3 separate regions of the Homo sapiens genome follow, and regions 1 and 2 are each linked to region 3. Evidence: fine-mapped expression QTL. A gene starts in region 3. Each other region holds a variant in brackets. All regions are shown on one strand. Distances are from middle to middle. Region 1 overlaps CNOT6L (CCR4-NOT transcription complex subunit 6 like). Region 2 holds the start of LOC107986292 (a long non-coding RNA gene). Region 3 holds the start of CCNG2 (cyclin G2).

Evidence for each region. PIP is the estimated chance that this variant, and not a neighbour inherited with it, causes the effect.
Region 1: its variant is the best candidate, but not a certain one, in a credible set for the expression of CCNG2 in whole blood (INTERVAL, PIP 0.58).
Region 2: its variant is the best candidate, but not a certain one, in a credible set for the expression of CCNG2 in whole blood (INTERVAL, PIP 0.51).

The regions. Positions count from the first base shown.
Region 1 is chr4:77,711,303-77,716,529 of GRCh38, forward strand. It overlaps CNOT6L (CCR4-NOT transcription complex subunit 6 like), which reads right to left. Exons shown (of 12, transcript NM_144571.3): 12 at 2,085-5,227. Among named protein-coding and RNA genes, the nearest start is that of CNOT6L, 110 kb to the right of the region's middle. The variant A/AAGAT (reference allele first, on the strand shown) is at 3,058.
Region 2 is chr4:77,178,364-77,183,590 of GRCh38, forward strand. LOC107986292 (a long non-coding RNA gene) reads left to right here and starts at 670. Exons shown (of 4, transcript XR_001741742.1): 1 at 670-703. The variant A/ATT (reference allele first, on the strand shown) is at 2,005.
Region 3 is chr4:77,154,445-77,159,671 of GRCh38, forward strand. It overlaps CCNG2 (cyclin G2), which reads left to right and starts at 2,763. Exons shown (of 8, transcript NM_004354.3): 1 at 2,763-3,062; 2 at 4,089-4,226; 3 at 4,923-5,060. The coding sequence starts at 4,089. LOC101928864 (a long non-coding RNA gene) reads right to left here and starts at 3,620. Exons shown (of 2, transcript XR_244659.5): 1 at 826-3,620; 2 at 310-532. RefSeq lists silencers at 2,322-2,441, 2,862-2,931, 2,962-3,071.

The DNA of each region.
Region 1 (5,227 bases), 560 kb after region 3:
CCTTTATGTCCAGGAAAGCAGCCGTCACCCAGCAAGTATAATTATATCTTGTTGGGATGAAGGTCTGGGCACACCACCTCAGAGAAGCAACCTAGACCCACTGACAGGTTGCTGCAAAGCTGTGTAAAATCTGAAATGTGTAATAGAATAGGGAAGATAAATATTAATCACAGCCTCAGAACCAGCTGCAGCAAGGGACCATATTCTTTGTCCCACTACTCCTCATCTATTTTTTTATTGAGATTACAGCCTGCCACAACGTAGGCTACAATGAAATGAACTTGACCCTGGGCCCAAACAGAACTTGGTGGTACAAGTGGTTACACTGTAGTGGACCCCTCTTATGTTCACTTCACACCTCTCAGCTCACTTCCTTATTCTATTACCTTGGCAACCAGATGCACACTGGTGTAACTTGATACACTTTGCCTGAGCCACACCAAATATTTCTTGCTTTTTGCACCACCCACCCCCTCATCCCATTTCTCCATTATCACTATATGGGACACCTGCAGGAATTTGCTAAGTGAATTTGATACAGGCACAAACATGGATGGGAAAAGGAATTAACACCCATGGAGTAAACTTTGCCTCATCCCATTCCTCATGAAGATAATTTTCAGGTGCCTTCTATTCAGCTCCACAGAGGGTCCTTGGCATGTTTATTCCCCAGTTGCCCACAGAAGTGATCAGCTCTGTAACGCATCCCTGACTTGGCTTTCCCTCCTTCCCTATTTCATTCTTCTTTGTCTTCCATTCATTCTTGAGATCAATTACCCAAAGAAACTACCTCCATGCAAACCCTTGTCTTGGTTTCTGCTTTTCGGAGACCGATTTCGTGAGATTTAGTTCATCTCCACTTTACCATTGAGCCTACATTTTGCCCAAGGCCAGATGGTGAAATGAAAGGACACTTGGTGAGTGTCTTCAATGCCTCATCACAAAGGTCTCTTAACAAGGCAGGTGTCTTGAAATCTGGACAACTTCAAGATTCACTTCACATGAGAGTGATTCCACTTTTGGAGGACTTCCTAAAGGCTGGCCAACACAAAGGCTTCTGTGAAGACAAGGTCCTCAGGGTCAGTGACAGCCTTCTCACACTGGATCCTTGGTAAAAACAAGTCAATAGGCACTGAACTGTCAATGTTGACAATCTGTTCCAAAATAATCTACCATTATCTTTTCCAAGCGCTTACTAAGCCGCACAGCTGTTTTCTGTTTCACTAAAAATAATCTGTTCTCTATCACCTTATTTTAAAGTCATTTTTCAGCTGAATATCTGTAAGCACAGTTTGCAGAATTCCTAATTATTTCACTATGTGCCTTCTCTCTCTCTCTTTCCAAGATTCTATGATTTAAGATATCTTTACTTTGACTGAAACACTGGAATATCTTCTGTGTCATAAGGAGTATTTGGAATATGAATTCTTGGAGGATAGGCATTATAAAGATGTCTTTCATCTTAATATGCCCACAGCACCTTGTTCACAGAAGATACCTGAATGTTTGTTGAATGAATTTACTTGAGATCTTAGCAGGTCCAGCTGTTGAGTTTCTTCAATATTGATAACTCAGCAAATCTGTCTGGTGGTTGTCTGTCAGTCAGGATCAACTAAATTAAGCCCTAATAACACAACTTTATTGTATTAACACACTGAGATTTAGCAGTTGTTTATTACGCTACATGCCCAAAGGACAGCAGGGGAGTTCTCTTCAACAAAGTCACTTAAGGATCTGGAATGAGAGGTTTCATCTCAACATATACTTCTATGATCACACAGGCAAGAAAAGGAAATATGGCAAATTAAAGACTGGCCCTTAAAGTTCCACTCAGAAGTGACATATATCCCTTTGCACTGGTTTCTTCGGGCAAAGCAAGTCATATAACTAGCTTCAGAATTTTTTTTAAACAATGTACTTAGTAATGTAGTTTTCACCAGAAAAAAAAATGTAGCATGAATTTGTAATTATGTATTTTGCCCTGAATTATCTTGGCTCCCTACTTCACTTTAGAAGAGACGTATCAACCTAAAAGCAGAGGTTTATACTGCACAAATAAAGAGTCAAAAACCAAGACAAAGGTATGCAGTTGCAAAATGGCCATTTATTGCCTACAGGGGAAGGAAAGGGAGGGAGAGAGGGGAAGTACACAGGTGCAAGGAAACAAGCATATATTTAGCCCTATACATCATGTGTGAGCAGTAACCAATCTCCAAAATGGAAAAAAATATTTTGTTATCTGACATAGTAGTTAAGGTTCTTAAGCACCTCCCTTCTGAGCTGCCACAAGATTTAAAAGGCAGGACTGCTTTTTTTTAGTCAATGTTCACATTAATGAAAAAATACTACCAACCGTGTCCTTTTGCACGCACACTTTGTACAGTGTCTATTGTGAAAAACATCTCAGCTGAGCAGTTTTGGTCAAGATTCAGACCTCATCAACTGTTTAACTGTAATAAATAGAAAAATAAAGCAGCTGGTGATTTTGTCAGAGAGAATGTGTTCAGTAAGAGTAGAACCACTTTCTCCAGGGATGGCAGAGAGTGTTAAATGGTTAAAACACCTACAGAACCAGTCTATTAAACATTAAACACTAGCAAGCTACAATTACATGGCACTTCATTAAATAGTCTAATTTAAAAAAAAATCTTAGATTTTAAACTGATTACTGAAACACAAAAACAAGTTGATTTAGTCCTTGGCTTTTTCTTAGAACAAAAGCAAAGTAAATATACAACCTAAAACAGCAGAATTTGTTTTGGAATAGTATCAATGGAAACTACCAAGTATTCAGGGAAAAAGTTACTAAAACACCTTGCTTGGTTTTACAGTCATGTGCTTTGCTTTGCAACCATTAGAATTAGATAGTTACAAAAACACTTTATAGGTCACAGAATGACTCAAATGTATGCAAAATAATGAATTCTTTAACTTAATGCCAGGTAATGAAAATAAATGAACCTTTCCCTACTCAAAACGATAAATTGAGTGGAAAAGTAGATTGTCCCATGGACAATTAGTTGGCACTTGTTATATAGTTGAAAAAAATCACAACAG[A/AAGAT]AGATATAAATTAATCGATGGTGAATTTGACCAACACCCTGGCCCTTATAGAGAGAAAAAGTACATACACACTCTCTTTAAAAAAAAAAAAAAAAAAAAAAAAAAAAAAAAAAAAAGCCCTCCATACTTCCCCACTCCAGAGACAACAAAGCCAAAGATGAAACATTCAACCTTCTCAAAATATTCCAAGTAGTTCTATTGAACTCTGTATCTCAGCTTCTCCAAGATGAAAAAGTTGTTTGCATTTGGACAACAACTGTACGAATGCCCATAGTGCACATCTCAGTGCTGCTGGTGTTTAAGAAATTTGTCACTCATAACCCTGAACAATTCCAGATCCAGTGTGCAGTAACACAGCCATCCAAATCCCTCCCCTTGAAAAGTTGGCAGAGCACCGCTCAGGAATTTCACAGGTAAGGGAATATATTTTTAGCAAGTTAAGCACAGAGAAAGGACAGTACAGTTTCTAAGTAAATACAGACCCAGATACTGCATCACTTACTGCATCAAGATTGAAACAAGCAGCAGGATACTAAGTCTGTTTGGTAAGAAGCAAAGCCATTGTTTGACATCAATGCTGAACCAATTTTGTGACTTCAGATAACTACAAACTAAATTAAATTGGTACATATAACAATTGATAGCTTGAAAGACAATACATCAGTGATTTGAAGTTAATACGAAACTGAAATGAGCAAGAAAGGACCACTTCTGAGAGGGTTACCATGATTCTTACGCTTTAGAGTTAAAAGTGACAGACATACAACTGGAAAATTATCTAAATTTTGAGAGATTGTTCTAACAAAAATAACTAGTACTAGGCACCAAACTAGAGCCTCCGAAAGATTCTGAAAGCTGAATGGACCATGCTACCACCATGCCAAAAGAGTCATATCACTTGGCATTTGTATATCCTTTCCATAATGTGATTTGTTTCTGATGACATACTTCTAAAATGCAGTTCAATGCTACTCAGTTTATACAATGTACCATAAAAAAAAATTAACAATTAATAAGCACAAATGTCCTTATGTCATAGGCTTTGAAAGTGAAAACTATTTTACTTAAAAAATATTCTATTACTTCAATGTCATGTCTGTTGAACGAAGAACTCAACATGCTTATTTTCCTTTGGTTCCAGGAAAAACCCAAGTCTAACCAAATGTATGCCACAAGGAACTGCCAACTGGGTTAAAGCTTGGTATTTTCCTGGTTATCACCCTATTTCCTGGTGTAGGACCTGGGGTTTAATAGAGACATTTACATAAAAAAGGTATTTGGTTAAAACAAGAAATATGCATGCTCTTCCTTACCACCTTCCTGGAAAGAACTGCTTTTTTTTCTTTCTTTCTGTGAATCTTGTTCAAGACATCCTGTAGTTTAGATATATGGGCTGCTTCTTTTTTACCCTCAAGCTTTTAGGTGACACTTATAAAGGTGAGCATATCATTCTATAAAATGAAAGATGCTCTTGGCATCCTGTTCTTAAACAGATTAGAACTTTGGTAAATAAGACAGATTAAAGATGTACTAAAATGTTTGAATTAATTTTGGTGATCATGATGCTATTACAAAATTAGAATCGCCCAAAGCAACCATAGTATAAAAGTTCTCATCTGCCTACAAATTTAAAACTTTAGTTCAAGCTTCTGGCTTCCCTAGTTAATTTCTCTACCTACAATTCACACAGTTCTCCAAACATGGTATGACTCAAAGGGAAAGGCGTAAATGAATCTACTACACATTAGAAAAGTGACCTTTTTTAAAGGGTAGGGCAGGTGGGAAAAAGAATATCTCATCAATGTGAGAATTCACATTTCTGTCAAAATGTAAGTATGTATGAGTGCTATTTTGAAAATGTGCCATAAAGTCTTTGCTTGCTATAAAAACCATTATTTTCCAAAAACTGGTCAGCATATTTTGCAAAGCTATTAAAATATCTCAGAAACAGAATAAAAAAGCTTAGAATCAAATAAGCATTGGGACACAGTCAATTTTATCATTAGAAAATCTAGCCATGTATTAGGAATGACATAATGATGTGGTTATATGCCTCTGGTTCTTCAAAGAATGTATTTAGCCTATTCTTCCCTGTGCTTTCTATAGTCTGCTGTTTCATACTAAAAGTATAGATGGCATTAGTGATTTTTAGAAACGCTTGGAAATGCAA
Region 2 (5,227 bases), 24 kb after region 3:
ACGACTCTGCTATCCTAGAAGTACTTTAGTATTAAGCATTTAGTATTGGGAATTGGGTAGTATTATTTTCCCAGTAGACTTTATAGTATATTTGTAGAATTATAATTTTAAATATAGTTCAGAATTTCCATAAACATTAAGCATTTTTTAAAAGCACTGAATGTAGAAGATACAAAGATAGACATGCATACTAGTTTTCTTCTTTTAGTTTTGCTACTAGTAACTAGTAGCAAAGAGAAAAAACATAGGCTCTGCATACAGGGAGCAACACAGGACTGACAGGAATGTAAAAAATCCTGTGGAAGGAGAAGGAAGAGGGAAAGAAAGGAAGCTGCAGGTGACATGAGATGAAAGAAAGAGAACACAGTGGGGATTAAAACATGGAGGGAGGATTAGCTGTGGGAGCCAGTGAGTCCAGGCGAGTTCTGTGTAGGACAGCTGTTGGAAAGAGCCTGGGCAGGAGGAGGGCTTTCGGGTTTTAGTCCCAGATTTGTCCACAGCTGTCTGACCTAGGCAAGTAACTTAACTGATCTGGAGTTAATTTTGTTGTTTTTTCTTTCTTTCTTTCTTTCTTTTTTTTTATGGAGTCTAGCTCTGTTGCCCAGGCTGGAGTGCAGTGGCCCGATCTCAGCTCATTCCAACCTCCACCTACCAGGTTCAAGCGATTCTCATGCCTCAGCCTCCGGAGTAGCTGGGATTACAGGTGTGCACCACCAAGCCTGGCTAATGTTTGTATTTTTAGTAGAGACGGGGTTTCGCCGTGTTGGTCAGGCTGGTCTCGAATTCAGGTGATTTGCCCGCCTCGGCCTTCCAAAGTGCTGGGATTACAGGCTGAGCCACTATGCCCGGCCCCCATTCTGTTCTTTATGAAATGAGGAGTTTGGGCTAGGTGACCTAGGTGACTTTCTGAGGTCCACTATAGCTTTGCCGAAGCACCCAAGACTCTTGTCTTTTGGGAAAGACCAGACTAGACTGAATTCCCAGACTAGAGGGCTGTCATTATTTCTAGGTATAATGTTTTAGATTACAATCCAGACTGTGATCCAGTCAAGTCTGTCTTGAGCTGTGTTAATTTTTACTTTAGAAGGACAGAACTGATAATGATTATATAAATAATTACGGTGGCAAAATGGAATGATGGGCATTAATTAATGGGAATAAGAACATTCAGCACAAATATATTCTGAAACCAAGACAAGGATGAAGACTGTAAGGCAAATGTACCTGGGAATGTGCTGCAAGTATAGCAGGTGTAGAAAGAACCACCATTTGGGCAGCTCCATCATTTTTCAAGCTCTGGTGAGAGAGGCCATCTTAGGCAGGCAGCTATCAGTAGTGGAGATCTGAGGGTGGCACCAGACAGTGACAAGCAGCATAAATTGGCAGACAATAAGCCACACCCATATTTAATATCCAGTGCATGCCTGTAGAGAGTCTATGCTGTTCTGACAATCTCTGCAGTTTCATCTCTTGGAGGATGGAAAGCTTAAAATATTTAGGTTAGAGAAAGGGTCTGATGAGTGAAGAACTCCTCTTTTGGCTTGAATCTATCTCTTCTGCCTTTTTTTCTTTTTTTTTTTTTTATATTGAGTTTCACTCTTGCTACCCAGGCTGTTGTGCAATGGCATGATCTTGGCTCACTGCAATCTCCGCCTCCCAGGTTCAAGCAGTTCTCCTGCCTCAGCCTCCAGAGTAGCTGGGATTTAGCAGAGATAGGGTTTCACCATGTTGGTCTGGCTGGTCTCGAACTCCTGACCTCAGGTGATCCCCTCACCTCGGCCTCCCAAAGTGCTGGGATTATAAGTGTGAGCCACCACACCTGGCGTCTTCTGCCTTTTTTTTTTTTTTTTGAGGTGGAGTCTCGCTCTGTAGCTCAGACTGCAGTGCAGTAGCACGATCTTGACTCACTGCAACCTCTGCCTCCCAGGTCCCAGTTCAAGCAATTCTCCTGCCTCAGCCTCCTGAGTAGCTGGGATTACAGGCATGCTCCATGATGCCCAGCTA[A/ATT]TTTTTTTTTTTTTGTATTTTTATTAGAGACTGGGTTTCACCATGTTGGCCAGGCTGGTCTTGAACTCCTGACCTCATGATCCTCCCACCTCGGCCTCCCAAAGTGCTAGGATTACAGGTGTGAGCCACTGCACCCAGCCCTCTTCTGCCTTTTAATAATAGTTTTACTTAACTTAAAACCAGCTGTGAGCTTCTTCTTCATTGTTGCTATGGCCAGCTCCTAGAAAAGAGCTCATCACAGAGTAGATGCTCAATAAATGAAGGTGGAATTAACAAACACATGAAGCTACTGAAGGGTTCCCCGCAGGAAATTATGCTCTAGAATGGATGCTATTTTAAAGGACAGTATAGAATGGAAAGGGGTGTCAGTGATGCTTCTTTAGAACTCTGAGAATTGGAATTATAAAGTCAATACACAATGGAACAAAGCAGATATTTGGAGAATTCTCCTTAAAGCAAAACAAAACAAGCAAACAACCGACCAAAAAAGGGAACAGAATGTCTTCTGGGCCCCAAGGTGGGAAAAACAGGGCTTGGTTCTAGTGTACTCTGTGGAATCAACATGGCTAAGAAAGCGCAGGCCAACAGAATGAGAATGATTTGACCAGGAACAGAAAAACGAGTCAGAGAATCCAAGACCGACTTTGCCAGTGTGCACAAGTGTGAGGCTGGGGGCCTGGATGTCCTTTCTGAAATAAGAGAGAAGAGAGACCAAATTAGGAACACCCTTATGGTGAGACCGGACTACTTAGAGTACCCTAGCTTGTTCTGATCCTATATTTCTGTTTTGTTTTGTTTTTATTTTTTGAGACAGGGTCTTGCTCTGTTGCCCAGGCTGGAGTGCAGTGGCACAATCACAGTTCACAGCAGCTCTGACCTCCTGGGCTAAAGTGACCCTCCTGCCTCAGCCTCCCAAGTGCTGGGACTACAGGCATGGAGCACCACTATGACTGGCTAATTTTTCTTTTTTAGCAATTTTTTGCAGGGATAGGATCTCATTATTTTGCCCAGGATGGTCTCACACTCTGGCTTCAAGTGATCCTCTCACCTCTGCCTCCTAAATGCCAGTTTGCGCTGGGATTACAAGCATAAGCTTGTAATCAAACAATACTCATGCTATATAGAGTCAGAAGGCCTGCACCTGACTTTCTGATCCTATATTCTCCTAGCACGGGTAATGTCTGATTTCTTTGTTACAGGTAACTAACATGTTGATGTTGCCCTTTGCTGTCAGTTCAGCTCCTCTAGGAAGCAGATGCTAAGATGGAATTAGGAGTACAATAAATTTATTGGGGGCTAATGGCCATGACAGAAGGGAGAGGAAACAGGACTGGGCAATGAAAGTCTTCACACCTCCATGCAGATTAGACACCTGTGAAAGGAAAGAAAGAGAGGCAGAATTGGGCAAGGGGAGCTTCAGACCATGGTGTGGATCTGCATAAATCTCTGCCTATGCAATAGGGAGTTCTGGAACAAAGAGTCCCCATTAGAAGAGTCCCATGCTGGGCAGACAGGGCCACACCCGAGCACTCCCAGCTTGTACGGTATTGGCTGGGGGCTACCCAGGAAGAGATGGGCCTCAGCTCAAACACATGGCATATGTTGAAGATGCTGCAGCTAGAGGCAACAGTGAGTTCTCTCTTAAAGGGAGATCTTCGCAGCACACCTCCACAGCTGCCATGCGATCCAAATCTCTTATTCCATGCTGGCTTTCACTATAGAATAGTGGCCAGAGAGTTTGATACCTGCTTTCCCAGCCTCCCTGACAATTGGAATGACTATGTGACACAGTTCTGGCTAGTGGGGCTTCTGAGAAGCTAACTGGATAAAAAGACAAAGCCTTATGCGAAGAAAGCACGCACACACATACGTGCACCGGCTATTTGTTTTCTAATTTTGAATGCCGTCTTGATACCTGGAGGGGCAGCCATCTTGCAACCAAGAGGCCATAAGCAAATGTGCTGAAGGATATAGTTCCTTGATGACATTAATGAGACTGCTCTCTTCCTGGTAAATAAACAATATGTTATTAACAAATGTTCTTATGGTTTAATCTATTGTTTTGGTTTTTGTTACTTGCAGCTAACTGATAATACATTTATTGCCTGGTTGAAGTAACTTAAAGTATATATGTACTTAAAGAATATATGTAATTCACCCACAAGCAAGTTCCCATATAATAGGTCTCATTATAAATGAGTAAGTTGGCATTCTACTTTACATGTGAATTTCTTAATACTTTGGTTAGAGTGAGCCAGTCCTTGTGAAATCAATATTCACAGAGTATTCTGAGAAAAGAGTTTTGAGACCTGAAAAGCCAGAGAAAGACGAAGCCTGAAAAGGGTGACAAGGTGCACTCACTCAGCGTCCTTCCCGAGATTGTGCGTTCCAATCTTAGCAAGAGGGTTTGCATTTATTCAAGCCCCAGGACAAACTATGGCTGTACATCCTAGTTGGCAATAATTTTTAAATATCAAAAGCCTGAAACTTGTCACCTTTAAAAAAAAAATTTCTGCAGTGAAATAATGAAGCAGCGCCTGTACTTTTTAGGAGAATCAGCCCTGTATGATTAATTATAGGCCACAGGACAGCAATGGAATATATAGACTATGAGGACCAGTGGGCATTGTCTAGAAAGAAGCAATTTGTTTATAGAAGACCGATAAACACTGTGCCGACTTTCTTCCATTGACATACTAGCAACCATAAGGAAATTCACTCGTTGTCATGTTGGAAGACAGAGTCATGAAAAAGGATACAGAATAGGTCAGTTTTAAACATAGTTGAAGAAAGTATGGTGTGAGGACAATAGTGACAGAGTGGGGAATACCGAGTTGCTGGGCTGTAGTAGTGGGAATTCTGGGCACTTGTCCCTTTAGTGTGAGGACCCTAGACACTGGGAAATCTGAGGAGCACTATTTAGATGCAAAAATGGACCATTTTGATGTTCTCATCTGTATCAGTGTTGTCAAGGAAACAGATGACTTGCTCAAATTAGGATAATTCAAAGAGTGTTTAATAAAAGGACAATTTTCAAAGGTAAAAGAGAGGTGTAGGGAAACCTCAAGGATAGTGAAGTCAGGTCTTGAAACAGAGAAGCTGTAATCAAATTAGGCCCAAAGTGATAAAAGGAGGATAGATGGCTGCTGGAACCCAAAAGGAAGAGTTGCGTAGAAAAGATGACTTGAGAAGATCTGTGACCTTGGTTGAGAGGACACAGCTT
Region 3 (5,227 bases):
GATTTCCTTATTTTGTATGTGTGCATGATACAGGAAATTTGCCTTCCAGAAAGCTCAGGAAAGGCTAATGGGTAAAGCCTGATTAGCCTAAGGGGAATAATGTCTTTTTCATAAATAACACTTTCAGCTCCGGCAAGGTAAGCCAATGTGATAAGGACAAATAGAATGAGGAGAATTTTTTTTTAAAAGATATATTAACAAACAAAAAATTCTGCAAAGTAAACAGAGAAAACCTACATAATCCCCCAGCCCATTTCCTAAGAATATCATCATTCTTAAAATGAGGTGTTTAAAAAAGAGGATGCTGTATTAATAATTACTGGATCTGTATTTTTAATGATTGCTTTCCTTTAATCTTAAAGAGATAAGTGGACTAACGTGGATAAAGGGCTCCATCTTGGACAACTTGATCAGTCTTTTCTTCTGTGCTGAGCAGGGCCTGCCAAGAGCAGGAAATTCAACGCCATTTACAAAGCTTTCTTGTCTTACTCTCAGAGAAAGCCATCACTGTTCACATCATTCAAGAGGCTGTCTGTAAAAGGACACATAAAATACCAGTTATGAAATATAGAGTACACATTTAGTATAGCTTCATATCATTTAGTGCTAAGCAGCAAGATGATTATGTCAAATAAAAGTTATCACTTATTTATGTTTAAAAGATCAGATAAGCATTGGATAAAATTATGTAGCCTAAGCAAAGGACAATTTCTAAATCTTTTCCTTTTTGTTTTATATAGTCTGTTATTTTTAAAGTCTTCTACCACATAAATTTGCATTTCCTCTTTCACATCACTTATAAAATAACGTATGTTCCTTTTTTACCTTTGCCTTCTTACTTGAAAAAAACATCCCCAGTCTCCTTCATGCTTTGATCACAAACTCTTCATTTCTCTGATGGTGGATAGTTGGTCGAGCTGCTTTCTGTCTGTGGGCCCTGTCCACTCAGCCTATTGATGCTCTGTACAATGAGCTGTCATCTCTGTAATTTTAATCTTAGCTCTAGTCTCTAAGTTAGTTTCATGCTCCTATTATGTTTATCAGCATAGATTTCCAGCAAGATGATTATGTCAAATAAAAGTTATCACTTAATGTTTAAAAGATAAAACAAGCATTGGATAAAATTATGTAGCCTGTAAATCATTTAAAACTGGTGTGCTAATTTTATCTTATTTTCCAAAACCCTCACCAAGCTCACACCTCTCTGAAATAAGTGTTAGCTTTTTGGGCTGCCTTCCCCCAGTTGCTCTGTGCTCCAAACAGATGCCTGTGTTTAGTCCGAGCTAATATGCAAAGGGACCTAGTTTTAAAATTCCTTAGCTGCTCCGCAAAGAAGAGCGCTGCCAAAGCTATGTTGTGTGCCTTCCCATATTTCACAAGTAACAAAATAATTCACAGAAAACACATAGAAGAACAGAAAGGAGAAATCTCTTCCCAGGGACTATCTGATTATGTAGATTAGAACTCACGAATATGGTATTTTCTAATTTAGGAGGGAGAGAGTAAACAAATAAATGTTCCAGGGCAGTCAACCACATGCCCCATTGATATTCCGTGTGAAAGTGTCTCTGGCCTAAGGCACCTGGTTTGTTTGCTTTTTGTCCCGTCCTGGGAGACGTGTCGCCTATAATAACAACGCTAATTATAATGAACAATAAATGATAATTTATGGGTTACCAAGGACCAAGAAGCTCTGGGAGTCTTCATTAAAACAACAGCACTACAACCTCTGGAGGTACGCCGTAATTATTAGATGTTTACGTACCCTCATCAGCGTGCTAAGTTTTTATTGAAAAGCCCCTCCTTCAGTCCCTCCTGAATTTTTTTAAATTATGGAAAAATTCCAAGACACAGAACTAGAAAGAATACTGTAATGCAGCCTCGAGTACCCATCACCCAGCTTCGACCCTCAACTTTTTGCCTATCTTATTTCACCTCTCTTCTCCATTTTTTTTTCTCTTGGACTGTAAAATTTTAAAGCAAATACCCAAACTTGTAGCATTTATTGAATATTTTAGTAAACGCCCCGACAATGTTATAATAATTTGGTGGGTTATTGCAAAATGGAACGCCAAGACAAAATAAAGAAGGAATGTAGAAAACTCTCCCGTGGCTGAAAAGGCTGTCACAAAGGTTAGCTGTTAGGAGAAGCGCCGCGAGCGTGACATTCCCCCAAGAAAGGCGGAGGCAGCCAGGCGAGAAGGCACAGCCCCGCAGGGCAGGTAACTGAATACCTTCTCCGCTGCACACCCAGGCATGCGCAATCCAGACCCTGGAGTTGCTAAGGCCCCAAGGCAGAGAGAGGCTCAGGCTACGGAGAAAGCCAATCAGAGGGCTCCAAGACTGATAAGTTAGCCAATCCAGATTCGAGGGTGAATCAGGTCCTCAGCATGCCCATCGCCCCACCCGCATCCAATCAGAGAGCCGGCTACTTTGGGCGGACTTTTCAAAACAGCGAAAACAAAACAAATCGGGGACCTTTAAAAGGCGTAATGAGACCAGAAACGATCTCCTTCCGCCCCTCTGTCTTCCCCCGTTCCCCAACGCAGATCAATCGCGGAATAAGCCCGACGCCCAGATTCCGCTCTCCGCCCTAGCGCCAGGCGGGAGGACTGGCTCGGCAAAGCCAAGGAGAGCTAGGGAGGCCGCGAGAGAGGCTCGAGACGGCAGCTTAGGGGCGGGACTCTTTTTTAAAGTCCGTGGAGGAAGTGCAGGATCCCTCCGCGGGGAGTCACGTGCCCCGCCCCCTTGGGGGCGTCGAAACTCTTAACAAAAACAAGGGGCTCGGGGAGGTTTCCGCTGAGGCGGCGGGGGTGCGGCGGTGGGCTGGTCTTCCGCGGCCGGCGTTGCGCCGCGGCGGAGGGTGGGCGCGCGGGGAGCGGGATGGAGCCGGGGCTGTGAGGCCGAGGCGGCGGTGCCTGGGAGGAAGGGTCGGATGCCGGACCGGGGGCACCGCTGAGGCGGTGGGTCCCCGACCTGCGAGACAGGTTTGGAAGCCCCCGCTGCGCCCAGTCCGTGCGGACCGCGAGGCCGCGGGCGGGTGGAGGCGCGTCTCCGGCACGGTGAGTGGACCCGCCCAGGGCCGCCGTGGGTTTCTTTGTTCGTGGTGGGGACTGTGGGCTTTGAGGAGGTTGGTACCATGCGAGTGCCTCGGTGCTGCCTGCTCCTCATCCGCTGGAGCGACCAGGGTGCTGCCCTCAGCCCCAGCCCCGGGGGGAGCTGGCGCCCGCGATGGACAGATAGATGCTCGTGGGGTGGAAGGAGGTTGCGACTAGGTTAAGGGCAGTCTCCGCCTCGGTGCCCCCCGCCCCCGCTCGTGTTGTCACGGGGACTTGCTGGCGTGGTGCTTCTCGAATTGACAGCCCCGGGGCTCTGCAGAGTTGTGGGGCCCCGGCATCAGTGGGTGGACGGGTGTTGTCCCTACGGGCGCGGGGCGGGCGGGCTGGACTGGACTTCTCTCCCCGGACCGTAGCCGGGTGTGCCGCGCCACCCCAGGGCTCCTGGGACGGGGGTATCCGCCTCTCGGGTAAGTCCGGAATCGGCGCTGCAGCAGCGGACGGGAAAAGCTGGGGGCGGGACTCTCCGAGAGGGGCTTCTGCAGCTGGGCGCCCCGGGCGGGCGGGGCTCGGGAGTCTCCTCCCTCCGCTTCTTTGTTCAGTCGCGAGACTCTCCCTCCCCTCCCCCCTATTGTGCAACACCCCATCCCCGGGACCCGCTGCAGTCGCTCGCCACACTGCAGTCCCCTGGGCAGAAGGCCCTCCCTGGCGCGACTTCAGGTGGGGCAGACCGAGGGGACGCCGGCGCCCGCGGACAGTTTCCTGTTTGTGAAACGCCAAGAGGCCAGGGCTGGCCGGTCTTACCCAGCGCTGGCCGGCGGACCTGACCACGGCTCCTCCCCCTGCCACACCTCCCTGGCCGTGGTGGGGATTGCCCTGGGGCTCTGGCGGACGTGACTGGTCCCTTCACCCGCTCCTTGTCGGGGTGTGCTGGGGCGACCCTTGCTGGAGGTACTGGCCTCAGCCCTTTCTCCCGCTTCCCCACCCCTCTTACCCCCAGATTACATTCTCTGTGTGGTGTCTTTACTGCAGATGAAGGATTTGGGGGCAGAGCACTTGGCAGGTCATGAAGGGGTCCAACTTCTCGGGTTGTTGAACGTCTACCTGGAACAAGAAGAGAGATTCCAACCTCGAGAAAAAGGGCTGAGTTTGATTGAGGCTACCCCGGAGGTAAGTTGGCAGAAAAGATAACTTGCTCAAGCAGCTGATGGGGCTTGGAGGAGGTAACCCCCCCGCCCCCGTTGAATCATGACTAAAGCCTGCAAAATTTCTTAAAAGTTGTTCTTTCTGGAGTACCAAGATAAACCTTATTACAGGTTAATGCTTTTGTTTCTTAGCAAGAATGAGAGTGATACTTTAGAGAAGTGGGGTTTTTTGTTGTTGTTTTTAATGTGGCACCCTCCTCGCTGCCCCCCATACTCCAGCCTGCAGCTTCAGGATGGGAGACCCCGGGTGAATTGAGTAGTTCATTTGTGCAAACACCCTCTGCCTGTGAAATACATATTTATAGTAGAATCTTAAATGACTTTAGAAAAGCAAACAAAAGAACCCTTTCTCTCCATTCCAAGGGAATTGAATTATATTTGCTATAACTCTCTGAAATCTTGCAACAGTTCACCTTATATTGAATTGCTGAAGCTCTTTTATGATGCGTATTTTTAAGAAGCAGTGATTTACGTCTTACAGATGATAAAGTGTATAGCTTTAGTTAAGCGATACCACTCTTTCCACCTATATTCTTGAAGATTGAGGGAAAAAAATTAACCTTATTCTTGGGAAAAAATTAACCTTATTCTTTGGACCTGTATGTGTTTTTCATCTGGTTCTAAGAAAATTGTAAACCTTGGTTCTTGGTTTTTATTGCAGAATGATAACACTTTGTGTCCAGGATTGAGAAATGCCAAAGTTGAAGATTTAAGGAGTTTAGCCAACTTTTTTGGATCTTGCACTGAAACTTTTGTCCTGGCTGTCAATATTTTGGACAGGTTCTTGGCTCTTATGAAGGTATTTCATCATTTTTATAAATATGTCTTCCTTTTTCTATGCCCAGTGCCTAGCACACAGGGTTCAAGAAATATTTATCGAATGGGTATAATAACGTCCACTGTACATAAAAATTTATAATCAGAATTGTGATCGTTAGTGCCAGAATAAGACTACAAGATTAATTG